Regions from separate parts of the Homo sapiens genome. Here all the other regions are linked to region 3. Evidence: fine-mapped expression QTL. A gene starts in region 3. Each other region holds a variant in brackets. All regions are shown on one strand. Distances are between the middles of the regions.

Evidence for each region.
Region 1: its variant is fine-mapped to the expression of PMEPA1 in pancreatic islets (PISA, PIP 0.95). The same link has a PIP of 0.9 or more in fetal neocortex.
Region 2: its variant is fine-mapped to the expression of PMEPA1 in fetal neocortex (Walker 2019, PIP 0.95).

The regions. Positions count from the first base shown.
Region 1 is chr20:57,647,284-57,657,891 of GRCh38, forward strand. It overlaps PMEPA1 (prostate transmembrane protein, androgen induced 1), which reads right to left. Exons shown (of 4, transcript NM_020182.5): 3 at 5,750-5,803; 4 at 1,113-5,315. The coding sequence ends at 4,770. Among named protein-coding and RNA genes, the nearest start is that of ZBP1, 32 kb to the left of the region's middle. RefSeq lists a silencer at 7,147-7,226 and enhancers at 7,420-8,019, 8,020-8,617, 10,453-10,582. The variant T/C (reference allele first, on the strand shown) is at 5,193.
Region 2 is chr20:56,721,990-56,732,597 of GRCh38, forward strand. No RefSeq gene overlaps it. Among named protein-coding and RNA genes, the nearest start is that of TFAP2C, 98 kb to the left of the region's middle. RefSeq lists an enhancer at 126-195. The variant T/C (reference allele first, on the strand shown) is at 5,114.
Region 3 is chr20:57,705,162-57,715,769 of GRCh38, forward strand. PMEPA1 (prostate transmembrane protein, androgen induced 1) reads right to left here and starts at 4,854. Exons shown (of 4, transcript NM_020182.5): 1 at 4,313-4,854. The coding sequence starts at 4,421. It overlaps NKILA (NF-kappaB interacting lncRNA), which reads left to right and starts at 5,022. Exons shown (of 1, transcript NR_131157.1): 1 at 5,022-7,619. RefSeq lists enhancers at 1-145, 3,236-3,847, 6,908-7,519, 9,899-10,427 and silencers at 4,686-5,115, 5,136-5,255.

The sequences.
Region 1 (10,608 bases), 58 kb before region 3:
GAACTGGGTCTGGGTCTGAATGATGTCAGGGCAATGTGGGCTTTGAGAGAAGGGGATCCCAGGCAGAAGGGGCAGCAGTGAGCATAGCCACAGGGAGAAAATGGGGTGTGTGGGGGGAGAAACCGGTGCATGTTGCTGGAACATCTGGGAGATGCCAGAGAGAATGGGAAGGCTCTGCAGGGCCTTGTGAGCCTCGAGGGAGGTCAAGGCTGCAGTGAGCTATGATCATACCACTGTACTCCAGCCTAGGTGACAAGGCGAGATCCCCATCTCTAAAAAAATTTTATTTACAAGTAACGCATGGATTTTTGACAGCAAGGGGGTTCAGCGTGCCTTGAACCCCTCGTTGTTCAAGGGCCAAGTGTAGTAAAATAAATGAGACAGGGTCTGTAGTGGGTGCTGCAGGTGCCCCCAGGTCCCACTGGAACCCTTTAGGGAGTCTGTACAGCCCTCCCCCTGTCTCCATGAGCATTGCTAGTGGCTGGCTTCTGGGAGGACAGTTCTGCAGCTTCTGAGACTCACTCCTCCATCTTGTGCACCAGGAGCCAGAGGGGTCTGGGACTCTACCTTTCCAGGGTCCAGAGCCCCCACAGGTCCTCTTGGGATCAAGCTGAGGCTGGAACTCTGTCCACAAGTGTCTCCCTTGCTCAGGTTCTCCCCCTCCTTGATCCTCTTCCCTGACTCCCTTAGCGGAAGCCCCCTGGGAGCACATCCTTAAAACGTCCTAATCCCTTACACACAAGGCCACGTCTTGGGGTTACTTCTGGAAGAACCCTACCTAAGACAGTTTCTTTTTTCCTTGCAGACCTTATCAGAGCTTTCGTCATGCTATGGTGAATAATGATTTCCCGACGGAGGAAAAGTATGCAGTGTTTTGCAAAATTGTTTAACAACGACCACCCCCTTTACCAGAACCTGCCTGAGCTAGTGTTTTCACTGGGCTCCCTGAATGCTGCCTGAACTAATAAAACAGAAAGTTTGAACGAACTGTTCAAGGTTGCCCAGCAGCTCCGAGGGATCGCTTCGCCTCCCTTGAATGCACCCGGGGTTATTGTAGAAAGGGGTGGGAAGTGAGAAGAGCTACATTTGGCCAAAGAAGTGAAAAAGCCTCATTCCAAAGAATTGTAAAATTTATTGTATAAGTATTGCAGCTTTTCAGAATGTCATCATTGCCACTAATGATTACTGATACACAACAAGCAGTTTCTTCAGGCCTGTGGATTGGCATCCAAATACAGAGTCTTACGCAGCGGGGACGTGGGTGCGCGCCCCGCATGCCACGGAAAGCTTACATAAGTTTAACTTGAACAGAGCTTGGGAAATGGGGCTGCAAAGGAGAGCAGTTCCCACGCCAGGAACCAACGTGAAAGCATTGGAATCAGCACAACAGCCATGGAATCAGGCAGGCAGGGGAGGACGGGCTGTGTCCTTCTGAGCTCTATAGTACAGCAAGATTTCAAGCAGTTTCCAGAAAAACAACAACAACGACATTTTCTTTCCTTATCGACGGGATATTTTATGGTTCTGGAAGCTTCGTGTTGCACATAGGAAAAAAAATTTCTCTGAAACGTACAATTCATAGGGACGACCAATGAGGACAGGGAATGAACCCGGCTCTCCCCCAGCCCTGATTTTTGCTACATATGGGGTCCCTTTTCATTCTTTGCAAAAACACTGGGCTTTCTGAGAACACGGACGGTTCTTAGCACAATTTGTGAAATCTGTGTAGAACCGGGCTTTGCAGGGGAGATAATTTTCCTCCTCTGGAGGAAAGGTGGTGATTGACAGGCAGGGAGACAGTGACAAGGCTAGAGAAAGCCACGCTCGGCCTTCTCTGAACCAGGATGGAACGGCAGACCCCTGAAACGAAGCTTGTCCCCTTCCAATCAGCCACTTCTGAGAACCCCCATCTAACTTCCTACTGGAAAAGAGGGCCTCCTCAGGAGCAGTCCAAGAGTTTTCAAAGATAACGTGACAACTACCATCTAGAGGAAAGGGTGCACCCTCAGCAGAGAAGCCGAGAGCTTAACTCTGGTCGTTTCCAGAGACAACCTGCTGGCTGTCTTGGGATGCGCCCAGCCTTTGAGAGGCCACTACCCCATGAACTTCTGCCATCCACTGGACATGAAGCTGAGGACACTGGGCTTCAACACTGAGTTGTCATGAGAGGGACAGGCTCTGTCCTCAAGCCGGCTGAGGGCAGCAACCACTCTCCTCCCCTTTCTCACGCAAAGCCATTCCCACAAATCCAGACCATACCATGAAGCAACGAGACCCAAACAGTTTGGCTCAAGAGGATATGAGGACTGTCTCAGCCTGGCTTTGGGCTGACACCATGCACACACACAAGGTCCACTTCTAGGTTTTCAGCCTAGATGGGAGTCGTGTACAAACCTTGGCAAAAAAAGGTTGGAGGAGCAGGAGTAACCTCACCAAGCTAGGCACCTCCCTGGTAGAGACAGGGTGAGGACGCGCGAGGATGATGGGGTGTCTGAAAAGCAGGAGCCCTTGGTGGACCCTGGGAGGGGATACCAGTCCCAGGTGAGTGAGGCACTGTCCGGGAACGTCCTCACCGAGCGACGGGAGTGTCACTGCTTCTTCAGTAAGGCACTAGAGACGCGTCACATAAAGGAAAGATACGTTTTAATCATCTTTACAAGTGCGTCCTTGTACCTTTCGGGATAACCTGTACTGATTTCTCTGCAGGACCTTTTCAAAGAATCCTCTTCAAGAGAGAAACAAATTTTAGGCTGACGACTTCACGGAGAGGCAGGTTCTGCTGTTGCCAATGAACGAGAACTTTCTACTAGGCTGGCGGCATGCAGAGCCCACGTCTGTCAGCTGCCACCTTCGTAAAGCACACGTTTCACATGCATGAGCTCGAGTGGCTAGAACTTCAAAACTGTGCTCAGGTTTTTGTTTTGGAAGTTATAAAAAAGTTGCTCACAAACAATAGTTATTGCCTTTTATATCTTTTATGTTAGTCTACTAGTCAGCATTCTGCCCAAAATGGAAAGCCACTCCCATGGGAAGGGAGGGGGTAGCAGCTGGGAGTCTGCTCTTCCAGCTGGGGGCCCTCCCACCCCCATGGGGAGGAAAGACGTCAAGCTCCAGCCACTGGCCCCGGTGGGTCCCAAAGCCCCACCCCTCATGCTCTCCTCTGGTCACCTCTATTTACGCTCACATGCCCCTTCCTGTCCTTCACCTGCACGTCACCAGCAGGTCCCGCCAACCCCAAATCTATCTGGTGAAAACCTGGAGAACAAGAGCGGAGTCTAAGAGAGATGTAAATGAAAACACAGATCAACAGACACACCAGAAGGGAAGCGTTGTTTCCGCGGGGAAAGGAGATGGAAAGGGGAAGAGAAGGTGAAGAATTCTGCGCCCGAAGCTCGGGTTGGTGTTTGCTCAACTGCTTTACTCATTTTAACCCTTTCACCTATCCTGGGAGAAACCCAGGCTTGTCACCTTTTCATGTTGGGTTGTTTATTGGCCTCTTAAGTGAGAATTGATCCGTGAAGGGAAACAGACAGGAGGAGGTCAGATTGCGAATACCTGGGGCTTCCTAGGGTCCAGTGCGGCAGTTACCGCACCTGCCTTCACCGGTGAACCTTTAGCCAGCTGAACAACCACCAAAGCGCCCTGCAGAGACAAGTCATCGAGCCCTCTGGCATGTCCCTGGTAGCCCGGGCACCAGCCGCTGCGGCTTGTGAGGGGCACCATGCTCCACCCCACGGGGACCTTCACAGTTGGAAAAAAGAAGAGGAAAAACTAATTCCTTCGGTAACAGTTTATTTTCATTTTTGGGAAAGGCAAAACCACTACCTGGAACTCGGTGCCTCCGTGGTTAACTTTCCTATTTTGCTTGTGATTTAAAGGCTGTTCTGGGTCAGGGGGGAAAAGGTGTCTCCTTCGGTAGGGAATATATAACGTGGTGATAACCTGTCACTAGGCAGAAGCATCCACTCTGCAGGGACAGTGGCCCCTCGGGAAAGCCCGCCGCTCCTGGCCAAGGCCTCTCTGCAGACTCCACGGGGGCTCACCCTCTGCCGTCAGGCGACTCTGAAATTCCGACATTTCTCCCTTAAAGTCTCAACAGACACAAGAGAAGTTTCCATCAAGCAAGCACTGACATATTTATATTAAAAAATAGTGCAAAATCTCAACATTTATATAAATAACTCTAAACCCCTGCTTTGTAATTTTTTTCTTTACAAGGTAATACACACTTTCTGACTTGGCACTCAAAAATTGCCATTTTTTTCCTCTTCTAGTTCAGAAAACAACTTTTTTTTTTAATAGGCCTCTTCTAATACAAAAATACTCCTGCCCTCGCACATACAGTTTCTCTTATCTTATATATATTTATATATATAATATTGCAGATCTTTAAACAAAGGTTTTGTGCAAATATGTCTTTAAAGTTAAGTGAAATTATCATAAACAAAAGAAAATAAGCATTCACGCACGCAGCTCAACTAGAAACAAGAAAGACTACTGTAGAAATTTTTTTTCTTTTGCCTTCAAGACACAGCTCAACAAAGAAACGTGGTTTTTTTTTTTCTTTTTTCTTTTTTTTTTTGCAAGCTCTCTTAGCTTGTGCATTCAGACCAGACATCACATGTAAATATTTATACACAGGGAGGTGGGAGGGGAGGGCCACACGATGCGTTGCTGCGCCCCCCGCCTTCCTCTCACTCCTCTTCTAAGAAGCGCGGAGTGTTCTGCCTTTTCACCTACGCAGCCCCAGCCCGGCCCCCCTGGGGACCCTAGAGAGGGTGTCCTTTCTGTTTATCCTTCTCTTTGCTCCAGATGGCTGCGCTCTCTAGGGGCGCGATGTGTGTGTGGTGGAGCCGGGTCCCCTCCAGCAAGGAGGGCGGCCCACTGCTCTGCTGGTGCTGGAAGGAGGACCCCGGGTAGTGGCCGATGACCTCGCTGTAGGTGGGCGGCGGCCCCTCCATGCGCCCGCCGCTGCCGTAGCACGTGGCGCTGATGCCCGAGTTACTGCTGGGGGGGCAGGGGCCGCCCAGCCTGGCACTATCCATCAGGTCACTGTCGAAGATGGTTCTGTTTGGGGGTGCGCGCACCGACTCCCGGTTCAGTTCCAGCTGCTGCTCGGGGTCCCGAAGCTGGAGGGTGCAGGGGCCCTGGTAGGGTGGGGGCTCCTCCCCGTCTGACAGCGAGATGGTGGG[T/C]GGCAGGTCGATCTCGTGCTGCAGGTACGGATAGGTGGGCTGGAAGCGGTGGAAGCGCTCCCGCTGGGCGAAGGGCGGCACGGCCAGGCGGTCGGTGGGCCGAGGCGGGGCGTAGACCTGCGGCTGGAGGAAGCAGAGCGGGAGTGAGGGAGGGCGGCTGTCTCAGGTGGGTTGTCCAGAAGCGATCCTGAGACTGGAGTTCTGCTGCATGGGACTTGGCTCTCTGGGGAAAGGGAGAGGGCAGCAGGGCTGGCGGGGGCGGGAGCCCAGAGCCTGATCCCGCGGGGGCCCTGGCCTGGGGGGCAGCACTGCAGAGCTGCACCGCCCTCCTCCAAACAGTGGCAGCGTCCGTGCTCCCGTGTGCAGAGAGCAGAGAGCTGGGCTGCTCCCTCAGGGGCAGGGAGCAGATGATCTCCGGCAAGGAGGATCCCAGCAGCAAGGGCACTGCAGAGGAGGGCGGAGGGGTGAGCCTTTAGCAGCCCACACTGTTCCAGCCGCAGCGGGAGCAGCCCAGGGTGGGATGGGGGTGTTGGAGGGGAGGCCGAGGGAGGTCTCACCTCTGGGATTCCGTTGCCTGACACTGTGCTCTCCGAGGGCCACAGGCATCCTTCCTGCACAGGAAGAAACGTACAAGCAGGGTCAGTGGGGTGGGCAGGAGGGACAGCAAAGGCTCAACCCAGATTCGACTCTTAGGCCTTTACCCTGGAATCAGCTCTTGAACCCGCCCACCTCTCTGCATCGGAACCAGCTTCCCCAGCCCCTGGCCCTGGGCGCTTTTCCAGGACGTGAGCGCAATCACCTCCTCACTGATCCCTGAGGTGCCCTCTGCTGTCCCCTGAAAATCCAGCCTGACACTTTCCAAAACATACACCCACTTGTGGGGCCCCCTTCTCAAAGCTGCCTGTAGCTTCCCGTGGGCCTCAGTGGCTTCTCACCAGGCTGAACATGGCCTCAGCCCCTCACCCCTGGCCCCACTCCCCTGGGCCTGGGCCCCCTGCTGGCTGTGTGACCTGCGTCAAGTTACTTAATTTCAACGCTGCAGTTTCTGTACCTGAATTACAGTTCTTGAGATTACAGTACTTGCCTCATAGTTGCTCAAGCACTTGCTGAATTTGAATGTAAAAACCACCCGGAGCCCACGTGGCACTCAGGTAGCATGTGAATGTGCTGGGTGTCACCTCCACACTCCCACCAGCCATGCTGACCAGCCCCCTGGGGCCTCAACAAGCTCAGCCCGAGCCCCAGGTCCTTTACACGGCAGGCCAGGCTGCACGGCCCGCTGCTGTCCACTTTCAGTTCCAGCGTCCCCTGCAGACCCTTGGAGACCAGCATCTGAAGGGCCTCTCCCGTGAACCTTGTCATCTGTTGATTCCCTTTCCAGCACCTGTCCTAACTTAATCATTGCTTCTATGCATTTATTTCTTTACAGTCTTTCTCTCCCTTGATCTAGTGAGCCCATCATTACTGATGTCCCAGTTCACAGGTGAAAAACAGGAGAGTTGAGGAAAGTGCCCAAGGCGGCTGCTCTGCCATAAAACAGTGATTCAGCCTCTGGCAAAGGAGGTGTGTGGTTCCACTGTGGCGCCAAGCTCTGGTCTGGGTGCAGGGGCACAGCTGCCACTTCATGAAGCTTATGCCATCTGCTCTGAGGAAAATGAGACCCCATGCCAGGACCAGTTCCTCTGAGTTTCCCCAAATGCCATGACGGTGAGCCCTGGGCCCGGGGAAAGGGATGTCTGTTACTTTTATAGCTTCATTGAAATATAACTGATATGCAAATAAATGGACATATTCAAAGCATACAATTTGGTTCGGGCATATATTTATACCAAGAACCTCTCACCACAATCAAGATAATGAGTATGTCCATCACCTCAAACGTTCCCTTGGGGCAGGTTTTTTGAGGGTTCCCAGGTAGGATACCGCTCACCTGCAGCCTGGGTAGGAACGGCCAGAGGGTGGTAATTTCCCATATGGCCACTAGGAGGCTCTGTGGCCCCTCAAAACTGTCCCGTCAGGACCGCTCCTACCCCTTAAGGAGGTCTTAACTGCCTCGTCTCCTGATTTAGCGAATGGCTCTGATATTCTTCAAGTTGCAAAGCCAGATCCACAGGATCATTCCTGACAGCTCCTCTCCCCACCACCCTTGTTCCACCCACCCTTGATCCCCTCTCACTTCTCCTTCTATTAGACAGTTCTATCCACCTCTCTCCCCAGCATCTGTGCCTAGTGGACAGCAAAGTCCTATGGAACCAGGGCCTCCATGTGCAGACAGTCCATCTGCAGCCTGCAAAAATGCAGATTCTGTAGCAGGAGGGCTGGCGAGCCTGCGTGTCTCACCATCTCCCAGAGGCTGCGAGTGCCGCTGGTCTTTGAGGTCCTTGAGGGGTCTCCCAGGGTCTCCTCCACTCTTGCCCTTCCCCAGGGCCCTTCCTCCTCACAGAAGTGGGAACATCTCCCTCATGCCCCCCACCCCACACCCTGCCACTCCTCTGCTTAAACCGTCTGGGCCCCCCGCTGCCTCCAGGAGAGAAAGTTCCAACCCCTTACCGAGGCCCATACCCCCTAGATGTCCACGGCCGTAGTATAGCTGTTTCCTTTAACGGGTTTTCCTATCTGTATAGCGGGCTGATGACAGCGCCTGCAATGCACCATACAGTGTGTTCTGCAAGGTGCCCAGTGAACACAGACTCTCACGTCTTGCCTTTGGATCTGAGCCCATCCTGGGTCTGGACCAATGGCCCCTCTTTCCTCCCTTTCCTGAAGAACTTTGACTGGCCCCTCAAGCCTCTGCCCAGGTGTGCTAACCCCAGAGCTCTCCGTTAGCCCCCCAGGCGGGTCAGGCACCTCCTCCCATCTCCTCCAGTCCCCTCCTGCACCACAGCCTTTGTCCCTCTGCCCCCGGTGGCCTATTCAGGGGTCTCACTCGCCCTGCAGGAGCTGCTACCGTTTCCCCAGTGCCAGGCGCCGGCGTGCTATGCAGTCAGGGAGTGCTCAGGTTGCTACTTAAGTGCGGAAGTTGCTGGGTGACCCGTGCAAGTCATCTTTGTGGAATTAGGTTCCAAAGTGGCTTGAGAAGTCGGGGGAGGTGGGCCCAGCTTCAGAATTGTCTGGAACCTTCCCCAGCCTCTGGCTATGTCTGCCAGTCACCCCAGGTGGAGGACAAGGACAGGTTCCAATCCTACAGCCACTGCTGACGAGCCCCCTGCTCCCAGCAGCCTCCAACCACTCCCAGACTCCCAGGGCTCGGGGTGGACTCCTCTTCTTTGAAGTGGGCGCACCCAGTCCACCTGCGCCTTCCCCATTTAGATGCTTCTAGACCAAGGGTCTGAAAACTGTTTCCATAAAGAGCCAGAGAGTAAAATATTTTCTGGTTTGTGGGCCGGCGGGTCTCTGTCATACCACTGAACCCTGCTGCTACAGCCAAGCGCAGCTATGGGCAAAACGCACTCGAAAACACTTCATTCACACTCAGAAAAGACCTCATTGACAAAACCAGGCAGCCGCAGTGAGCTGACGCTCAGGCAGCTCCTCCCAGACCCCTCCAGAGTCTTAACACCACGAGGCCAGAACGTAGCTGCCCATTCTTCCCCTGGAGTCCCCAGGAACATCCAAGGGGACGGGATGGCCTTCTATCAAACTTCGAGGACTCAGAGATGTTTCTAAAGAATAAAGAGATGTTCCTAAAAAATTCGGTACCTCCCATGTCCTCAGGAGATACTGAATTCCCCCACAGCCCAGCACAAGGGGCCTGGGGGAATTCGGTATCTCCTGAGGCCATGGGAGTGGACGCTAGGTCTTTGGCTCCCGCTGCTGGCAGATTGTCGCACATTGGCCTGGCCACAGTCTTGTCCCTGCCCCTGGGAAATGGGCCCTTGGTGGGCTGGGTTCTCTCGGGAGCAGGAGACCCACACTGAGGACTGATTGGGGGATAAAGAGGACAAAGGGTCACCCCATCCAAGGCCTGAGTTCCTAGTCTGAGCAGGCCTTGGGCACAAAGACTGGGATTGCCTTTCTGGGTAAACCTGAAGTCTGCGCCACTCCGTGGCTGGGCGGTCACTGCAGTGACGTTCTGCATCATGTCCCGAATACCCTCGGAGCAGCGCCAGGGTGGAAGTGCCATCCCTGGTCGAGGGGCTTGCCTGCACTGGAGCCTCACCCTCAGAGGGCAGATCCTTGCCCAGTGTCACACAACAAGGAGGTGACAAGGCCGAGAAAAGACCTCAGAGCTCAGGGTCTTACCTGAGATGGTGAGGCAGGTGGGTGAGGCACGAGCTCTTGTCTCCATACAGGCAAGAGGGGACCCCCAGGGTCACCCTGAAAAGGGGCCATGGTCGGATAGCCATGCCAGGGGCAGAGCATGGATGGGCTGGGGGGATGTAGACTGGGCCCGGGACAGATAAGAGCTGTATGTGGATCTCTATGGAAGGCCGCGGGGCCCAGGGACTCCTGTCTGGCAGGGGGTCCCCAGGGGAGCTGCCACATTCTGCTTTAGGCCTAGTGAGGCTCCACGTTTACCCAGCCAGGCATCCCGGGCGGCTGTGCAGGCGGCTGGGTAGACAGTGGGAGGAGACTTTCTATTGGCCGAAGGTGTGACGGAATCCTACCCCTTCCTGGCAGCAGGATCCCAGGTGCCGTCTCCTGCTCCACAACAGTGAAGCCCCTGCAGTCGGCCTCTGGGTACGGTACACTCTCCACTAACTGCATCCTCCCCATGACCACGGGCCGCACAGGCCTAGCTTCAACCCACTGTGGAGATGCACACACTGAGGCTCCGAGGGGCAAGGTGAGTCCAGCCTGGAGTTAGTGCCCCTCCAGGGCTGGTGCCTTCTGGAATGTCCAGGCACCGTCACTCTCCCCAGCACTTGAGGGAGGACGGAATAGGCTGTGGGCTCTTCACACCGGCAGTGACAAGCAGTGTGGCCTCCGGCAAATGTTCCACCTCTCTCATCCCCAGTTTCTCCTCTGGAAAGTGGGGTGAACCCCTGAAGTCCCTGATGGCATCCCTGGGCAGACGTAACCAGTGCTTGTTGCTGGAGTGGTAGCAACAGCAAATAAACACGTCGGGGCTTGAGAGCAGCAGGTCTGCAGCACGCCCTCCGGACAGCGTGCTGGGACGCACAGTGGGCCCCGGGTCTGTGGGCCAGGCATTCCCATCAGAGGTCCCAGGGCTGATGCTCCTTGCCCTGGCAACCTGGTGACGCACTGAGGCTGGGGCCTGATGCAAGCAGAGGTGTCCAGACCTGCCAGGGACAGGCCTTCCGGCTAGGGACTGTGGCCAACAGGCTTCTCAGCTGACTTGGCTCAGCCCAGGGACTCTGGGCGCCACCACCAACCCCAGGCGTCCCCAGAAGTGGGGAGGCCACACTCAGTGCTGCCTGTTCTGTGAGTCCTCCCCACACCTGGTGAGCCCCGG
Region 2 (10,608 bases), 980 kb before region 3:
GCTGTCATTTCATTTGAGCCAGCCTGCTGCACAATGATTGTCATCTTGCCAATTACCATCCTGTTTCCAAAAGCACTTTATTGCTGGAGGAATGAATGGGGCTCGATATGGCCTTATATAACAGTTGGACTTCCCTCGCCGGCTTGAAAACAGAGCTCCTGTCAGACTATCAGCCCATAAGAGCATGCCTTGGATCTGATAAACAGACGTTGGCAAATGGGAGGTTGGAAGGTGGTGCCAAGCTCTGTGGTTTGGACTGGTCCTATGAGCGAAACAATCGAAGCAGCTAACCATCTGCAGGAGGGAAAAGAGGAAGGGAAACTCAGCCTGAGACACAAAGAGGAAGTGTGGGAGACAGAGGGGCCGCAGTGGACGAGGTCCCAGTCCCAGCCCCGTTACTACAGCCTTGCAGACTACTGCCTGCCCACCAGCAGGATGCCACGTTTGTAGGGCGAGTAGACGTTCTGTTGATTTCACTAACCTTCCTTCCTGTGGTGCCTCCTTCAGGAATAAAGGGGTGGATGAGGTTGCAAGGATGGAGATGGGAAGGAAGATTGGTGGACAATTTTGTAGAGAGCTTTTGCGGATGATGAGTTGCCCTTCGTACTTGCTGATGTTCACTTACAAGCTGTAAAGCCTTTACTGCTGTTGCCATTGGATGGTTTTGGACTGAGCTAGGCACATTCTCTTGCACAGGGCTACTTGAGACCATGGCCAACTTGTCAGAGGCTTGGCTGCAAGTCTACCCTGCTGGCCTGTTAGGAGTTCAGGGAACCACACAGAGACCCCACTTGGGCATACTTATAGGACAACATCTATCATTTGGATGGACAGCGGACAGAGACAAGATCTGCTCAACCAAATCCACTTCCCCAGCTTTTATCATGTAGGCCACTGTTAGGCATGTATTCTCTTAAATGCAGCCCAAAGCATCCCCAGTGAATACACCAGAGGGCCCCCTGAATATTCTTGCCAAAGCCTTTGAGTGTGCAAGGCCTTGAGCCAGCAAGTGAGAATTCCATTCCTTGTGTTATGCTGCCTTGGTGGAAGCAGTGCTGTTTGGCTCTTGATACAATGCATGGTTTAGAGAAGCAGCTCTTCAGATTTTATTCCTGGAGCCCTCTTCTTTTTAAGACCGATCATGTGGCTAGAGCAGGCTTCTCTGCCTGGGCACTGTTGACCTTAAGGGCGAGATCATTTCATGTTGTGGAATTATGTTCCATGTGGTGGGGCATCCCTGTCTTCCACTCACTAGATGCCAGTAACACTCTCCCCTAGTTGTGACAACCAAAAATGTCCCCAGGAGGCAGAACTGTTTCCTGTTGAGAACCTTTGGACTAGAGGAATAATCTGGAATCAGATTTGTATACAGTCTACCAAAATTCTGAGCGTCCTTCTCTCCTGACCTGCCTGTTTCTTTACCTGTGTCAAGACTGCCATGCGATCTTGGTTACATCCTCATTCACAGCTAGGATGACTGTCACAGGACTCTCATGCAGAGGGAGGGCCATCTTCCTACGGCCTCATTGGTTTTCCAGAAACGCTTGAGCAAATTCCGGGTCACTGCTGGGCAGAAGTGAGGACTTGAGAAAGTATTCAGACAGCTGCTTCCGAGCTCCTCTCACAGTTAGACTGAGATGGAGGACAGCTGAGAGGCTCAGTAATGTCCATGGATTTGGCCCCAAATTGGCTATGGAGAGTAGGTTGGAAGTTTAAAAAACAATAATAGATTTTCTTTTCTTTTTAGACAGAGTCTCATTCTGTTGCCCAAGCTGGAGTGCAGTGGTGCGATCTCATGTCTGAGTCTCCCCAGTAGCTGGGATTACAGGCGTGTGCCACTATGCCCAGCTAATTTTTGTATTTTTAGTAGAGATGGGGTTTTGCCATGCTGGCCTCAAGAAATCCACCCGCCTCAGCCTCCCGAAGTGCTGGGATTATAGGCATGAGCCACTGTGCCCAGACAATAATATAATTTCTTGTTAGAGGCCGTCACTCCTGGATTTGAGATGAGTTAGGTGTCAAAACCGGAAGTGGAGATTTGGTAGAGTGAAGAGGCATTTCCAGCACCCAAATGGGCCTTGAGAATCAAGAGACCTCATTGCAAGGAAATGGTCTTGGATGGGAAGTGCAGGCCCTGCCACCGGTGTGGCTCACTCTCCCCACAACGCCAAACAGCAGCCCAGTCTCAACGGGGGAACCTGGGTGTGTTGGGGTTTTTGTCTAACATCTTGGAATGATTCATTCATCTTCTGCTCTCAATCAAATCCACTGGCCTTGTTGAAGACCTTCCCATCATCACAGAACCCTGTTTTGTATAAAATAAATTGGAACCACTGGCATTGAATGGAGCAAAAAATAGAACTCTGTGAGAAATACTTGCTGTCCAGTAAGCCGGGGGCGGCTTTTCTTTACCAATGCCTCCTTCCCTTTGAAAACAGGAAGTCACCATGGCCAAAAGTAAATGAGTTTCCAGCCGGCTGGGTCAAAATCCAGACTCCACCTCCCACTCCCACCTGTGGGCTCCATGTCAACCTGCCCAACTTTCTCTTTGGGTCTTGACACCAGCGGCTGACTAAGCCCCTGTCAACGCAGCCCTCCTCTTTGATCTGAACTTTCTGGCACTGTCTCTGTTCTTGTTCAGAGGGAAGCTTCCATCTTCCTCCTCATGTCTCCTCTTGGCCCCCTTTCCTAATCCTTGGAGTGCAGGCAAAACTCTGAATGTGTTTTTTCCTCAGATAAATTGTAAAAAGGGGCAGGTGCCAGAGCTGTCCAGCCAGCACTCAGTATTCTTACCCACCCTGGCTTAGGGTTGAAGAGGAGAACTGTCTGAATTCTTCATACAGGTCTCTGACCTAAGACATTTCATGAGGTTTGTTTAATTACAGGAGAGTGAAAACCCTATGCAAACTTTCTTTTTCTTTTCTTTTTTCTTTTTTTTTTTTTTTGAGATGGAGTCTCGCTCTGTCACCCAGGCTGGAGTGCAGTGGTGTAATCTCAGCTCATGGCAACCTCTGCCTCCCAGGTTCAAGTGATTCTCCTGCCTCAGCCTCCCAAGTGGCCGGGACCACAGGCGTGTGCTACCATACCTGGCTAATTTTTTGTATTTTTAGTAGAGATGGGGTTTCACCGTGTTAGCCAGGATGGTCTTGATCTCCTGACCTCGTGATACACTTGCCTCAGCCTCCCAAACTGCTGGGATTACAGGTGTCAGCCACCGCACCCGGCCACAAACTTTCTTAGATAAACAAAGAAATTTATTGACTTATGTGGTTGAAAAGGCCAGTGGCTTCAGGCACGGCTGGATCCAGGGGCTGAAGGATGCCATCCGGAATCATTCTCTATTTCTCTCTCTCTTTTTTCTGGAGACAGGGTCTTACTTTGGCCCCCAGGCAGGAGTGCAGTGGCACAATCACAGCTCACTGCAGCCTTGACCTCCTGGGTTCAAGCAATCCCTGCCTCAGTCCCCCAAGCAGCTGGGAATACAGGCATGCTCCACCATGCCCTGTTAATTTTTGTATATATTTTAGAGATGAGATTTTGTCGTGTTACCCATGCTAGCCTCGAACTTCTGAGCTCAAGCGATTTGCCTGCCTCAGCTTCCCAAAGTGCTGGGAATCCAGGCATGAACCACCATGCCCAGCCATTCTCTATCTCTCAATATTGCTTTCCTCTCCTGGCTTTCTTCTAAGGCAGATTGTGCCCTGTGAAACCCTGACCACCAACTTTCAGCTTACACCCTATCACTGTAGAAAGTCCAGGCAAAATGCACATTGGACAGGCAAAAATGGTGGTGCTGCTGCTGGTCACTACCCAGACAATAGATGTCATGCAGCTGCCTGTGCTTGTTTTGTTTTAAAATTTCTCTTTATGTTTTCTGGTCCTTCTCAAACTTTGAACAGTGAACATGGGCTTAGTCAGAGATATATTGGTTACAAACAGCAGACACCTACTCAAACTAGCTTAAGCACTAAATACTTTCTTTTTCCAGGGATTTAATGGTCACTTGGGAAATCAAGGGCAGGTAGTGAGGCCTGACTTTGTGGAGATTGTCAGAGGAAATCAGGAATCCATTAAGAATCAGCACTGTCATCTCACTTTCTCTTCATGATCATTCGCCTCTGATCATCCTCCGGCATTAGATCCAGTCTTCCTCTCTGTCTGATTGTTTTGCTTTTCTATGCTGGTGAGAGGACGCCTCTTAAACAGGTACCCAGAGGTAGAGGTGGCGCTTGGGCTTCCGGGTACCTCTTGCTGGGATCTTAACTCACTGCAACCTCTGCCTCCTGAGTTGAAGCTGTTCTCGTGCCTCAGCCTCCAGAACAGCTGGGACCAAAAGTGTGTGTGGCACCACACCAAGCTAATTTTTTTGTATTTTTTAGTAGAGATGGGTTTTCGCCATGTTGGCCAGGCTGGTCTCAAACTCCTGACCTCAAGTGATCCGCCCAACTCGGCCTCCCAAGGTGCTGGGATTATAGGTGTGAGCCACTATGCCCAGACTAGAGTACTTGTTTACCAGGTATTTGAAGACTAAACAGACAACAGATTAATAACCAAAACAGCAGGTGTAATTTTATAAATAGAAAAATTAAAGATCATAGAATTAGCAGTACCAATGGCTTAAATAAAAATCCTAGGCCAGCACGGTGAAACCCTGTCTCTACTAAAAATACAAAAATTAGCCGAGCATGGTGGCAGGTGCCTGTAATCCCAGCTACTCCGGAGGCTGAAGCAGGAGAATCGCTTGAACCTGGGAGGCACAGGTTGCAGTGAGCTGAGATCGCACCACTGCACTCCAGCCTGGGCGACAGAGTGAGACTCCATCTCCAAAATAAATAAATAAATAAATAAAAATCCTAGATAGATGATAAGAATTACTGATGAAAAATAAATTAAAATATTTTTCCTTCAAGCAGATAAAAAACATACTAGACAAATCACAAGATTTACTACTTTTAAAATCTTATTTAAATTTTAGAATAGTTTTACATTTACAGAAAAATTGCAAATATAGTACAGAGTTTCTATAGGCCCCACAATCCGGCTTCTTCTATTATGAACTTCTTACGTTACTATTGCATATTGTCATAATTAATAAACTAATACTGATGGATTT[T/C]TATTAACTAAAGCCCATACTTGATAGACATTTCCTTAGTTTTCCCCGTGTTGTTTCCCTACTCCAGGATACGACATGACATTGAGTCATCCTGTCTCCTTATGCTCTTCTTGGCTGCGGCAGTTTCTTAGACTTTCTTTGTTTTTGATGACCTTGATGGTGGGAGGCCAAGGTGGGTGGATCATCTCAGGTCAGGAGTTCGAAACCAGCCTGGCCAACACGGTGAAACACCCTCTCTACTAAAAAAAAAAAAAAAAAAAAATTAGCCGGGTGTGGTGGTGAGCACCTGTAGTCCCAGGTACTTGGGAGGCTGAGGCAGGAGAATCTCTTGAACCTGGGAGGTGAAGGCTGCAGTGAGCTGAGATTGCGTCACTGCACTCCAGCCTGAGCCACACAGAGTGAGACTCCATTTAAAAAAAAAAAGATGTTTTGTAAAACATACCTCAATTAGAATTTGTCGGATGTTATTTTCACCAAACAGACTGAGTTTAGGGGAGGAAGATCACAAAGGTGAAGCCCCTTCTCATCACATCCTATCAAAAAAGTACGCACTGTCAACACGAGTTATCACTGTTGATGTTGACCTTGATACCCTGGCTGTGGTTGAGGTTGTGTTTGCCAGGTTTCTCCACTTTAAAGTTACCTTTTTCCCTTTCTTACTTCTTAAATCAACCCCTTTCTTAACCTATTGTGTTTATTCGTCCACATAGTGTCTCTGCACTTGATGCATGACTCTGCATTTGATGCAAGAAGGGAAATAGAATGTCATACCGTTGTCATACCATTGAAATGCATTTTTCAAGACCATCCCGACCAAGATGGTGAAACTCTGTCTCTATTAAAAATACAAAAATTGGCCGGGCGCGGTGGCTCACGCCTGTAATCCCAGCACTTTGGGAGGCTGAGGCGGGCGGATCATGAGGTCAGGAGATGGAGACCATCCTGGCTAACACGGTGAAACCCTGTCTCTACTAAAAATATAAAAAATTAGCCGGGCGTGGTGGCGGGCGCCTGTAGTCCCAGCTACTCAGAGTCTGAGGCAGGAGAATGGCATGAACCCGGGAGGCGGAGCTTGCAGTGATTCGAGATCGTGCCACTGCACTCCTGCCTGGGGGGCAGAGCGAGACTCCATCTCAAAAACAAAAACAAAAACAAAAACAAAAACAAAAACAAAAACAAAACAACAATTAGCCAGGCATGGTGGCGCAAACTATAGTCCCCGCTGAGGCAGGAGAATCGCTTGAACCTGGGAGGTGGAGGTTGCAGTGAGCCAAGATCACACCACTGCACTCCAGCATGGGTGACAGAGAGACTTTGTCACAAAAAAAAAGAAAGAAATTCATTTACAGCAGAGTTTTTTTGTTTAAAAAAAAATTCCCCTTTTCAAAATATGTGGTTTTCTCAAGGGACGAGAGCATTCTGTCTAAAGCACTGTTGCCCTCAAAAAGAAAGACTGGAATGAGCTTTGGTTTCTTTTCCATTGTGACAATTCCCAGATTTGAATAATTCACCACAAGCGTAGATCTCTCCCAAGTCTCCAGTTTTCAAAGCACTTTGAATTTGTGGAAAAACAGAGTTATCCGGATGGTTGGGGCTGGCAGTTCTCTGGGGGACAAAGTGTGCTATAGAAATACATGATTGCCTAAAGAAACTGCTTTGTAAGCCTCCCTACAAGATAAGAGAAACTTTTTTTTTTTTCTCCGAGATGGAGTCTTGCTCTGATGCCCAGGCTGGAGTGCAGCAGCACCATCTCAGCTCACTGCAAGTTCTGCCTCCCAGGCTCAAGTGATTCTCCTGCCTCAACCTCCCAAGTAGCTGGGACTACAGCCATCTACCACCACGCCTGGCTAATTTTTGTATTTTTAGTAGAGACGGGGGTTCACCATGTTGGCTAGGCTGGTCTCGAACTCCTGACCTCGTGATCCGCCTGTCTTGGCCTCCCAAAGTGCTGGGGTTACAGATATGAGCCACCGTGTCCAGCCAGATAAGAGGAGCTTTTTTTTTTTAACAAACAAACAATCCTGCACCCAACTGCTCTGTGTTGGATTTAAGACTTAATTTAGATTATTATTTACAAATTTCCAGAGTCAAGTATATTTCATTTTTTATCAGTAATTCTTATCATTTATCTAGGATTTTTACTTGAACCACTGGTAATGCTGATTCTATGATCTTTAATTTTTCCTATTTATAAAACACCTCTGTGCCCCCAACAACTTCATCATTGTTTTTCTTTTTTTCCCCTCAAGCTATTTTGGAGCTAAATAAAAATTTAACATTCGGGCCGGGCGCGGTGGCTCACGCCTGTAATCCCAGCACTTTGGGATGCCCAGGAGGGTGAATCACGAGGTCAGGAGTTCGAGACCATCCTGGCCAACATGGTGAAACCCCGTCTCTACTAAAGATACAAAAAATTAGCTGGGCGTGGTGGCGGGTGCCTGTAATCCCAGGTACTTGGGAGGCTGAGGCAGGAGAATGGCGTGAACCCGGGAGGCGGAGGTTTCAGGTTACATTTTTCATATATGGCAGCCAACCTGCTTTGCTAAAGCTGCCAAATATTTCATGTCTAAAAAGGGAAATAAAAGACACTTTGAGGTATAAGGAAGTAGAGGACTAGATGAAGGATAATGCCGTTTTGAAGGGTGTGTTTATGGAAGGAAAATATTGTGTATTTTTGGGTGTTTGGAAAGCCCCAGAATGGTGGATTTTACTAATAGAAGTTTGTTGCCCTGCTCATGAGCTACTTTGCTTCTGTAGGTATCCACCAAGCTCCCAAGTGGGCTAGCACATAGTGCAGGCTGAAGAGTGAGCAGGATGAGTGAGCCCACGTCTTATCTCTGCAGGATCCTCTTCTTACACATTGACTTCATCAGCAGGCTTCTGGTGAAAGACAGTGATGGCAAGTGACTGAAATCCAAGATGATGATCCATTGGCTTCCCCCAAATCAAGGAGGGGCCAACTAACCAAGCCACGAGAGGCATGACACTGCTGCTGGGCCTCACGAATGGTCTGGAACCAAGGGATGGGTCGGTGATATTCTTCTGGCAGAAAAGGCGGGCATCAACTTGCACAAGGTAGACCTCTCATTGGCTCAGCTTGGGTCAGGTGACTGCTCCTGGACTACGGGATTGGTTCATCTGGAAACCGGGCTGCCATAGGAACCATAGGGTCCAGAGGGGCGGGGTATTAACAGGAAAACTAGGAGTTCCGTTTTCAGAGGAAGGAGAGTGGTCTGGGCAGACAAAACTGTTAAGGTCCATGACACTAACTTAATGATGAGCATATAAGTAGAAAGTTATAGATGTCGCCACGTCTGGTGTTTTCTCAGTTTTTTTCCTAGAGAGGAAAGTAAACATATTATTCTGTTTTAATAGGTTGCCAGGTGGCCCATCCTATAATCCCATATCCTCACGTTCTGTTAATATGTTGGTATTTTTCCTTCTAGTCTTTTCTTTTCTCCACCCCCCACTCCAGGCTATGGTTTCTTAGGCTGCCGGTTTTTGCTTTGCATGAAGCTAGACTGACTTTTGGGTTCTTAGCTAACTTCCAAATCTGTGAGCTTTTTTCAAATGAAGTTGGAATAGTCTCCCTAGCCAGCTATATTGACAGGAAACTAGGTGAAAAGATCTTTGAATAAATTGTTTGTCTCTGCTTGCCAATTCTAGTGAATCTTGAAATATGACTCTCAAAGAGACCATTGAAAATGACCTGGAAACTTTGGCCACTTGGTCCCATGAAATAGAGGGCCCCCAAAGTTTGGTATAACAAAATCACTTCCAAATTTTAACCTAGACATTACAGGCTGGAAGGACTGCAGGCCAAATGTGACCCAGATGTGTTCTGTTTGCCTCATACAGCTAAAAAATTTCAAATTAATTACCAACCTTTGAAATCAAGAGCTTTTATCTGAATTTTGATCTTCTCTCTAGATATGGGGAGATGTGGCCGTGCCTGGTCAGCCTTCCTGAACCACACATTGGCTGGATTGCTGTGGGTGGGGCAGACTTTGTTGCTACAGAACCCCAGACCCCGCTGTTACCCACTGGAGTTATTTACAAGGCCTGCCGGATGCCTGTACGTCAGTGGCTTCAATCCGGCCACTCTCATTGGCTTGCTGCTCCTGGAGTTGCCCATGCTGAGAACCGTTCTGTTCCACCCAGCCAGCAGCCAGTGGAAATTTCCTGACCCCTCCTGGGCCTGAAGCCCCAGAGCCAGGACCGGACCTTTGTGGATACTGATGGCTGGAGAAAATGTCTGTAAGACTCTCAGTAGAGAAATGCTAGGTGCAAAACTGCACAGGGCCTATCATCCTAGGGTAATTTAGAAATACGTGCATATAAAATTATCCCTATCTTGATGTTTCTGTTTGGGTTGTTACCTCTGTTCCCTGATCTTCATATCTACACCAACATTTTAACAATGTAGAATTCCGGTACATGTGCATTTCACTTCTAATTTACATACACTCCAAAGAATTTTCCAAAAATGTTCTCATTGCATATTTTGCTTATGTATATACACTCTTCAGCGTGCATGCCCTCCACTCCCATGCCTTAGCCACACCTCATCCCTAGTGGACAGGAACCCATTTCCACGCCCAGCTGTTATCTATACTTTATCCTGCACAGGTTGTACACACAAACCCTGCTTACTGCATTTTGTGCATGATTTATGGGATTTTCAAGAGTAATTCTGACCACGCCCAGTTCTTTTTAAGTGCACTGATTGAGAACTCAAGGTAATTCTTGGGGAGATAGGGCAAGAAGACCAGAAACCAGGAAGAAGGCAGGAAAAAGACAAGATCTGGGTCTGCGTGGGACTTCCATTCTAGGAAGTGGGAGTTTTCAGCTGAGCATAGCAAGGATTTGAATCTGGGCTTGCGAGGTCCAGAGGCATTTGCATACTTCCCTAGCGTTGATGAATTGAGCTAACTCACACACACCAGGTATCCACACATCTTGGAACCAGATAGTAGATGGGAAAACATGGAAACACGGCATAAACACAGGAAACAATGAGAGGTTAACAGTGTATTTTTTGCTTGTTATCTGTGTGACCTAAAGCATGTATTGAACCTCTCTGATATCACTTTGCTTGGGTCATGTAATGGGCCCATTATAGTGGGTTCCTTATGTGGTTGTGGTGTTCATGGAGATTAGAAATAGCAATAACACCCACCATTTATTGGGCATTAAAAAAATATATATATATATAATATATTAATATATATGTGTATATATATATATTATATATATTTTTTATATATATGTATATTTTGAGACAGGGTCTCACTCTGTTTCCCAGGCAGGAGTGCAGTGGTGTGATCTCAGCTCGCTGCAGTCTCCAACTCCTGGGTTCAAGTGATTCTAGAGGCATGTATTATATTTCAGGTAATGTGCTCAATATTTTATATCCATGATATCACTTCATCCTCTCAATCATACAAGGGATAGGTACCATCACTATCTCCATTTTACAGACAAGCAAACTGAGG
Region 3 (10,608 bases):
TGCAAGCACCCACTCACAGGCGCGTGTGTGTTTGTACAGGAACAATTAGTTATTTTGTGCTTTGACAAATGCTAAACTCACCTCGACCCTGGGTCACACTGGGCAGTGTAGCTGGCTTAACCCAGACCTCCTGGGAAGCTGAGGCCAACTGTCTGACCTAAGATTCGGGTCATAGAACTCAACTCCCTTAATAACTCCCCTATTGCACCACAACCTAAAACCCAGACAGTCAGAAAACCTGTGGGTGAAAAGTCCCAGGGTTTAGCGGGTCCACAGGGGAGAACAGCTGGTGTTGGACATCTGTATTTTAACCCCAATCCAAAACATCAGCTTTCACTAACGCCAGGGTCTCTCCTTAGAAAAGCAAATCCAAGACGAAAACGGGAAAACTTCATCTCAAGAGGAAGCCCCTATCTTTCCTTCATGGCACACAACAGGCACTCAGTAAAAGCTGAGTGGATGAGTGGCTGCGGAGTGGCCACAGGCCTTCACAGGGACGAACGTCTGACGGGAATTAAGGGTCTCCTGGCAACGCAGATGCTGCCCTCTGGCCCTCAAGCCCCTTAGGAGAAACCACTAACTGATTAAACAGTGGTCTCAGTAGGGGGCATTTGACCATGTCTGGAGACATTTCTGGCTGTCAAACCTGGGAGAGGGGTGCTGGTATCTAGTGGGTGTGGGAGAGGGGTGCTGGTAACACCTTACAGAGCACAGGACGGCCTTTCCTGCCCCCCAACAAAGAATTACCGGGCTCAGAATGTCACAGTGCCAAGGCACTGTCTCTACACCCTCACTTGATTCAAGCAAGTGTCAAACAGCATGTGCCAGGCAAGCCCAGGGAAACCTGGGTGTCCTGTGAGTTTCTGATATTTTCTCATATTTGTTTGGAAAAGGTTGGAGAAGAAGAATCAGAGGCTCGGTGACTCTGGCCAGTGGGTGATGTTAAAAAGACAGCTGCCACCGTAGATACCACCAGAGATGGGCCCAGGGCAGGGGCACCTCCCAGAACTCTCAGGAAACGCCTCCCGCGTGAGCAGACACCGGGTGGCCCCAGGTTCAGTCTTTCCCGAGAGCGAACTTAGCATCCATCTGGGCCCCAGAAGTTTGAGGCAATAACCAGAGGAGAAAGACCGGGGGTAATCTCTGAGACGCAGCAGAACTGAAATGAGGTAGATGAGGTTGCCAGGAAAACCAGGTGCCAGGAGTCCTTTCCTCAAAAGTAGCCGCTTCAAGCTCCAGGCTGACATCTGCAAGGCTGTCACTCGTGCTGCCTGCTTTTAATCCCAGGACCCTTGGCTTTTTAAAAGAAAGGGTTTTCCCACGGGTATGTTTTGGGAACACTGAATTCCCACCAGACAGCAGCCTCATCCCTCGACTCTCAGAAAAAATGGGGCCCCAGGAGTGTCCTGTTACAGTCAAGCCCACTCCATTCAGCATCCTGAGAGCAGACGTGGCTCCCGGCGTACAAAGGGGCTCTGACAATTTCCCCCAGCCCCCAATTTCAAGGAGGACCTGCTCTGGGGCCCAAGTACCAAATTCAAGAGGTGTGGGCGTGCAGTCCAAGAGAAACCACCCTGGCCTGGGGCTGGTGTGGGTTTTGGACCTCGGGCAAAACTTTCCACGGTGGACTTTCCTCATCTGTAAGTCAGGGATGTGAACCCCGAGCTTGCGTAGGCTCCTCTCAGGTCTGAAATTTGGGGTAGCTGAAGACCACACAGGGGAACCAGCAGTGGGTGGGAAGCCCGGTCCAGCCTGAAGACCTCCAGCCAGGCTCAGCAGGGGAGAGGCCCTATCTTGAAAGACTATAGAATTCTAGATTTCATCCATCACGGCCTCATTCTTCAGATGAAGACAGTGAGGCCCATCATGGCTTAAGGACCTAGCAAGGTCAATTTCCTTCTGCCAAAAGAAGGTATCTTACAGGATAGGAGCCACTTGGACACTGCCTCAAAGCCCAACTCCAAACCATCCATCAAGTTCTCGTTGCAAACAACTCCCAGCATGTACTAGATGAAAAACAGCAGCCACTACTAGTTAAAAGAAAAACCAAATACTAGCTTTTTTCCTTTCTTTTTTCCTTCCCTCCTTCCTTCCTATCTTTTGGTGTAAAGAAACTCCAGGAGACACCAGGCCTTACCACTTCCTCACCCTAGTCTCTCGGGGAAATCTGATGAAAACAAACTGTTACAGTATACCTGCATTTTAAAGACTGGTTGGTTCCCTCCGTGCCTTGCAGCTTTCTTCCAATAAGTAGGGGGCTGTGTATACACAGAACACAGGACTAACTGGGGCACCCAGGGGCCAGCTGGAACAGGCTAGGGTTCCAGGTATTAACCCCAAGGGTCCCAATCACTCAAAGGCTGCTGGCGGCGGCGGGGCAAAGTGCAGAGGGCGGCGGCAAGGCATTTAACAAGAGGCCTTGATGTCAGGTCAAAAACATCATGGACTGATGAGCCTAAGAAAGGACAGAAATAAGAACAATGCTTTTTTTTTTTTTTTTTAAGTCCTGAACCATAAAGAGAGACAAGAGCAAAATGATGCACTGTGCCCAGCCCTTGGAATAAGGGTGACACAAGGATGTGTGCCCCTCGAGCAGGAGGTCCTCAAGGCAGCTTTACAGAGCGAAAGGCAAAAAGTGAGGCAAGGAGGGCACTGAAGCAGCAATCCATCTAAGGCAAGACTCTCCAAACGTGTGCGAACGTATTTTAATAACATTCTCGTGCATTTCATTAGCCTCCTGAGTTCACAAAGGGCCTCTGGGAAGGCAAGTCGGTTCCGCAAACGCTGGCTCTGGGCAGGTCCTCCTGGCACCTCGCTAGTCTGGCACAGGCCAGCTAAGGTGGGGTAGGGGGAGAGCTTTCCATTCCAGGCTGGGAGGGAGTGTGGAGAGGTGGATGGATGGAAGGACCCACCACCAAAGCCCGGCCAGCCTGGTTATTTTTACCACTTGAAGCTCACTGTATAGGCTCAGGGGCCACAAACTGGCAGCCGCCTGCGGACACTTGCTTATGAGCCGCCCAGACACTGCCTTCATTCCACAGCGGCTGCTTCTCAGCTCCGGGCCCCAGCTAGGGGCAGCCTGGCCCCCAGCAGGGAAGGACTGTGTGCCCCTTCACCTGGCGTGCTTCTTCAGGGTGGGGATGGGGAAACTAAAGCTCAGGGAAGCAAAAGGTCCCCGAAAAGGTGGGCTGGGGGACAAGGTGTAGGCTAGAAGCTAGAAGCCAGAACCCGGGAGGTAGTGGTTCAATTCTCCACTCAACCAAATGTCCACCTAGGTGGGCTGTGTGTGCAGGAGGTAGAGACTTACTTATCTGAACTTTTGGGTGCCCAGGCGGCTGCGTTAGCGACAAGGTTCAAAACCCCACTCCCCACCGTTGGTCCACTGATCCCTTATTTAGGGCCAGGCAGTCCCAAACACAAACAGCCCCAAACTTTGACTCCTTTGTAACCATGGTCTCAGCCAGACTGAACCAAGCTGTCCAGACAGAGGCTATTTATAGGTGCGTCGGGGACACAGACACTGGCACAATGACACACACACATTCAAGATCCACGCTGGGCCAGACGGGCCAGAGCTGAGCCCTGGATTCAGACACCTGGACACACACGGTCCCCAGATCCGGCCCAACCAGACCAGACCCCCAGAAAGATGGACACGCTCAAGAAAGGCACCCCGGCCCGGACACGGGAAAGACACACAGAGAGAGGCAGGAAGACTCGGTGACACGCACTCTTGGGCAAGACCGCGACTCAGACCCCCAGACACCCCGAGAGACGCCGAAGACCCAGACAGAGCCACGCAGCCACGCACACTCCACAGACGCACGGACATCCACTCAGAGCCCGAGACACAGCGCCGCGAACACTCCAGACACACGCCCGGAGCCCCAGACACCTCGCAGACCAGACAGTGTCTCACACGCCCCTCCACCCCCGCCCAAAGTTGATAAAGAGCCGGCCTAAATGCTCCATCGCGACTGCCCTCAGGGAAATAAAATGGAAACTTCACGGATCCGCCCGCCCCAACCCTCCCGCGCCGTGCGCCGCCGCTGAGCCCCGGGTCCGAGTCCGGGCGGGCGGGGCGCGGACAGCGGGGGCCGTGCCAGGCTCGCAGCGCCGCGGGACAAAGCCGGGCCGGCCGCCAGCTGCCGCGAGCCGGGAGGGCGCGCCCGGGGCGCGGCGGGCGCTGCCCGGGCGCAGGGCGTTCGGTCCGAGGGGGCGCGCAGGGCCCGGACCCCCGCTCGCAGCTGTGCCCCGACATAGGGTCCGAGCCCGATGGAGTCTCCGGGGAGGGGGGCGTGGGGTCACTCACTGATCTCCATGCTCTGGAACAAAGAGCGTTTGCAGTTGCACGTGCAGGAGACATTGGGCTGCCCGGCGGCGGCGGCGGCGGTGCTGTTGACCCCCATCAAGCGGTGCATGGACGGCGCGGCGGCGCGGCGCGGGGCGCGGGGGGCTCGGGGGCGGCCGGGGGGGGCTCCGGCCGGCGCCCGGAGCTGGGGCCCCGCATGCAGGAGGCGCGCGGCGGGGGAGGCGCGCCCCGGCTCGCCGGGCTCGGGTCGCCGCCAAGTTCCCGGGGCGCCGCGGGGCTCAGTGCGCGGGACCGCGCTCCGCTGCGCCCCCCCGGCCTCCCCTCGGCAGCCCCGGGGGCGTCGGCAGTGCCCGCGGGTGGCGTCCGGAAAATGGGCTGGCAGCGGGGCGCGCGCTGCCGCCGGGGCTGAGCCTCTGCCGCTAGCTTTCCCCAGCCGAGCGCCTCCGCCGCCGCCGCCGCCGCCGCCTCCTCCTCCTCATTCAAGTCCAAGGAGATCGGGTTTCGCTCCGAGACCGCGGTCGGAGGCAGGCAGACGGTCTGACGTCAGCGCTAGACGGGGCTGCCGGTTCCCACCGCGCGGGGGCCGGGGAGGGGGCGCGCGCTGCGCCAATCCCCGCCGAGGTTCCCCCGCACCCCCTCCCCGAGCCGGGGGGCGGGGTGACGGGAAACGGGGCGGGCTCTTAAAGGGCCAGAGCTAGGCGGCCCACGTAGACCCGGCACCCGCGCAACGGAGGAGGGGCGCTGTGCCCTCTCCCCAACGGCGGTCAGCTTGGAACGCCTGCCCGGCGCACGCCCGGGGCCGGGGAGCCGAACTCGGTGCCAGCCGCACCCGGGCGGGTTGCTGGTGCGCCCTCCCCTCGCCCCCGTCCCTGGGGTCCTTGACCCAGGCTCTTGGGGCTAGCCTATCTTCTGAGGAGCACAAGGTCCCTGGGGGCTCAGGGAAGAGAAATTGGAGAAAGGGGGAGGAAGCCCCCAAGATGGATCACCCATTGCCTGGTTTCGCAGGAGACTGTCCGCCTTCAGTTCTCCAGCAGCTCGGGGATCATGGCCCACTGAACCCCCAAGCGCTTTCACCCGAACCCAAGGAGGACGACCAGGAAAGACGGGAACTCGCGTAGACACGCCCGGAAGCCCTTGTCATGTAAATAGCTGTCGGGGACTGGTGTATTGTCGCCGCCCCAGCCGGCGGGACCTGGGGCGAATCCACACCCATTGTCTGCTGCCCAAGGGGCCTCCGGCTGGGGGGCGCGGCTGCGGAGTTCAAAAGGGGTATGAGCAGGAGGGGTGTACTTTTAGTTCATTAAGTTTTAATTACAGGAGTGCTACAAGAACACATTCTTCAGGTTTAAAAAGATATTAAAATATTACATAAGAGACCTCCCCTCCCTGGCCCACCTCCAGCCTCTTAAAAATTTAGTGTGTCGCCTTTTAGACACTTTCTCAAAGCTTCACTTATTTAACAGGCACTTAAGGAGCACCTACCTGTGCCAGAAACTCTCCAAATATTAACTCAACCTGACACCGACTCAGTGTGGCCGAATATTACTCTCCCCATTTTACAGAGCGGGCAGCTGGTCAAGGAAGTCGCTTGTTGAAAGTCACACAGTGGTGGAGCCTGTGTGCCAACCCAGGACCCTGGGGAGCTGCCTCCCCCTCTCCCACGTAGTCCTGATTCTTTAAGTGTCCACATATTCCTGTAATGCCTGGAGTTTCAGTAATTAGCAGGGACTTAGTGTGTTCAGAGAAAAAAAAAGCTTTTAAAAATTATTGTTACTGTGTTTGTAACAGTTTGGATAGAGAAGGAAAAGCTGGAATTTGGGAAGTGAAGGTGGCCTCGGGGTAGAACTTACCTAGACCAGAGCGAATTCATCCTGAAGAACTCAGAGAAAGCCGGTGCAGGAAGTGGGTTCCCGCTCTCCCTGCACAGGCACAGTGATGCTGCCAGAGCTCTCCCAGAAAGACCAGGAGGCTTGTTCTGGAGAAGTCAAGCCCAGGGATGTGGCTCAGGCTGGTCCAAGCTCTTTGGAGGAGTCCAAGCGTGCCCAGCCCAGAGGGAGGTTCAGAGGCACTGACCGTCTTCTGTTTGGGAGGAGAAGCTCACTCTTGGAGCCACAGCCAGCACTAGGTCAGGACCCAGGCCCCGGCCCAGGAGTGGGGCAATACCCAGCGTCTACCCCAGATGGCACCCTGCTGTGAACTGGGCGCCCTCAGCCCCTGCCTTGAGGAAGGGGCAATACCACCAGCGTGTCTTTTATCAGGGAAGATATTGCTGCAGTTTGGCCGCTGCAACTTAAGAGAAAAGCTAAGGGGTCCCCCAGCATCCCTTGGGGTGCCACTGCAAATACTGGCTGGGCCTGGAGATGACCTGGGTCCCATTCACTTCCTAGGGTGAAGGAGGTCATCATTACCACCCCTGCTTTCAGCCATTTCTTCATTCATTCAATCAACAAACTGGCTGAGCTGCAACCCTGAGCCGGGGAATTCAGCCACTCCAGACACAGCCCCTGCCCTCCGGGAAGTCTCGGGAGACCTGGCTAGTCTGGCTGGGAGAAGTCACACGTTGATTGTCTTGGAAGTGAGATGGCATTTACACAATGGAGGCTGCACTGCCAGCAGGCAAAAATAACCAGTTAATTCAGTGGCTTAAAGAAACCAAACCTACCCACAACGCTTGACCTCCCATTGATCCATCTGCGACACCGGCAGTGGCTACCATTTATTGAGTGCTGATGGTGTCACCTGGGATTGACTTAGTGGTCTCTGGCGCTAGTTCCGAAGTTGATTCTGTCTGGAGAGCTTAATGCAGTGTTCAGACCTCAGGGTCCGAACCTGAGGGTCACCCAAAGATGAGTGGGACATAGCTGTGTGACCTCGGCTGAGTGCTTTCACCTCTCCAACCTCAGTTTCCTCTTCTGCAAAATGGGGTGGCTTCATGGCACCTTCACGTGGTGTGATTGCGAGGAATGAAGGGATCGATGCCTTGCAAGTAGAGGAGAAGGGGCCGGATACATCTTAGTTGTTATGTTATTTAATCATCTTGGCAACCCCGGGAGGGAGGAACCACTATCATTTTATTTTCCATTTTGCAGTTGAGGACAATGATGATTCCAGCACAGACAGGGCCCCTGACGGGGCAGTAGGAAAGGAGAATTGCTTTGGAAGGAGCATAGGCTGGACTGCCAGCACTCATAGGAGGCTTCGTGTGTGCCCAGGACTGCGAGAATTAAATACAGGACACCCAGTTCAGTTTGAATTTCAGATAAACTATGAATAATGATTAGTGTAAGTATATCTCAATTTAACTGGATAGCTTGTATTTTTCTTTGCGAAATCTGATAACCCTAGATGTGCCAGGGACTGTGATGCTGGCATTTTGGGCATGAAGGGCAGAGCCCACTGTCAGGCACAGGCAGAGAAGGTCACAACTCCCTGATTCTACCCAGGAGAAATGGGCAGAGCCAAGGTGTTAATGGGCTGAGGAGGGAGGGCTCACTGCTGGGAGTGGGAGTGGGGAGGGGGCACCGCGATTGGGCAGGCCTGAGTCCCTGGGAAGAATGCCACAAGTCAGAGGCAAAAAAAAAAAGGTTTTGTTCACTCATTGAACAAACATTCTGCTCCTATTCAGTGTGAAGCTCTGTGCTGGGTATGGGGCACAGGGCTGGGAAGAAAACCAACTCCCTGACCTCGTGTGACATTGTGGGGGACAAAGGGACTAAAGACACACACACACATGCAAACTCATAGCTCAATGAGGTCAGGAGGTCATTTCAGACATGGTGATAACAGGCCAAAGGCCAGAGTTGGGGTGAGATCAAGGAAGCCCTCCCTGAGGAGGTGGCATCTCATTCCACCTGCAGTTACCAACCACCCACAGGTGCAGCCCCAGCCATACTGAGGCTCACAGGTGAGGCTGACATCACATGTGTAAAAAGATGAGTCCAGGTGATAATTTCAGAGAGGGACGAGACCTGGGAAGAATATAAAAGGAGAGGGTTTGGAGGCGACTTGAGCCCAAAGGGTTGGGCCTCCTCTCTGGGGAGATGTGGGCTGGGCATGTAGGGGACAGTAGAGAGGGGATGCCAGGCCAGTGGGGGCATCAGGAACTGGGAGACTCTCATGGTCCCAGCAGGTTTGGAGTTTGGGACACATTTCTCAGCCTGGCTGTGGCCATGGGGTTGTGAAATGGGTGTGTGAAGCAAATGGATTGTGAAATGGGTGACTGCAGAGACAGGCCTTTCTGGGACTCCAGACAGCGTGTGCCACCATCCGCCCTGCCCATGGGTTGAATCCGCGGCCGGGGGGATTTTCCAGAGGAAACGTCCTGTTTCAGCAGGTTAAGGGGCTTTGCTCCCAGCAGCGCCGCGCATCTGTGCTCTGCTGGACTTGTGTGCAGAGCCAGCTTCGTGGGAGTGTGACCCCCCTGCACTCTCCAGGGCCCCATGCTCTGAAGGGTCGGGGGTTTATTGTATTATTTTATTTATTTATTTTTTAGTTTAATTTTTTCTACTGTTGACATCGTGAAATTCCTAATAGTTAACAGTTTCTGAACACGGGGGCCTGCAAATCTGTAACCAGTCCTGCTCAGATGCCAGGCCCACACTGGCAGCCAGTTGGGACCCCATGGAAGTCAGTGTGGGTTTTGGCCACAGCTGAGGGTGGCTGGCAGTGTTCTGACTGTGCCCGCTGGCCGAGGGTGGCTGGCCACTGTGGAAAGTGCCTGACTGAGCCAACAAAAGTCCTGCTTGGGGAGCCGGTTGAGGGGACAAGGCAGAGGCCCTCCTCAGGGCCAGCCGTGCCCCTGTCTGCCTGCCACCCCCGGCCTGCCTGGACGGAGCTGCCTCTGCAGAATTAGTCTTGGGAAACCTTAGGCAGATTAATGACCTCCCCTCCCAACTTAGCACCTTTGGAAACACCGTCCAGCAGGGTCATTTTCTTCCTCAGGTTGGGGTTAATTGGGGCTGTCAACTTTCACAGGTTAGCAACTTTGGATTTCATTTTTTTTGTCTTGTTTTACTTTTAAACACTAGTAAGAGCCAATGTTTATTGGGCACTGCCCATGTGCCATGCCAGGCCCTGTTCTAACCACTTCACATTCTTCCACTTAGTCATTCCACAAATATGCATTGGGATCCTACGGAGAGCCAGAAATGAGCTCACTGGATCCCCACGACAACCCTCTGAGGTCCAAGCTGATATTATTCCCATTTGACAGATGGGGACACTGAGGCTCAGGGACCCAAGGATGAGGTGGAGCTGGGATGTGAATCAGGTACTTGGGCCCTAAAGCCCATGGGCTGGCCTCAGCAAATGATGCCTTCTGCACCCTGTCTCCCTCCTCACTGCCTTTGACTGGGTCCTCCCTGGCCGTCCCACTGGACTCGGTTGGCACTGTGCCCCTGGCCGTCCCACTGGACTCGGTTGGCACCGTCCCCCTGGCCGTCCCACTGGACTTGGTTGGCGCCGTCCCCCTGGCCGTCCCACTGGACTCGGTTGGCGCCGTCCCCCTCAGCTCCACGGAGGCCCCCGGGGATCCACCATTTGCCTCACCGCTGGTGGTGTCTGTTCATAAAACCTCATCTCCGACCATGAGGGGCAGCTGACTCTGCAGCGGAGTGAGGCTGGAGCGGCTGGGTTGGTGAGAGGCCACTCCAGCACCTGCTCTGGGTCTGGCGTGGGCAGCCTTGGCAGGCTGCTTCAGCTCACTGAACCTGCGTCCCCTCTGCCACTAAACAGGGAGGAGCGGGATTTCACAGTGAGGGAGAGGCAGTGTGGGGAGGCCTCAGCACAGGGCCCAGCGGCCCCTGGACTCGGTGTCTGTGAGTTCACCATCCCCTCCACTGCTCCAGGGGGCAGGCCAGTCTGGCATGCCTTGCTTGGGGTCTGGCCTGCAGTGGGTGCTTGGCAAACCTCTGTGGACTAAATGCAGGAGGGACACCTACCCACAAACACATCCAAATCCCATTTTTGGCTGCCTTCATGACTGGCTAACAAGTCTTCCCGCTCACTCACCCTCTCCACCTCCAAGTATCCTCTTGCAGCTGAGTATCCAGAAGCCAGTCACCTGGGCTAGCACCTACCAAGAAGAGCAAGGAGCGTTTGCATGGTATCAACCAGAACCAGAAGTCTCAGCCAGAAAGACGTGTTGTGCATGTGTGGTCTCCACTGTGAGCTTGTGGGTGTGCGTTGCATGTATATGCAGGACGTACATGTGCATATTCACGCTGTGGGGTATTTGTGTGTGTGTGGTGTGTGTCGTCTGTGTTGAGGGTTTGAGGGTGCACGTTGTATTGTACATA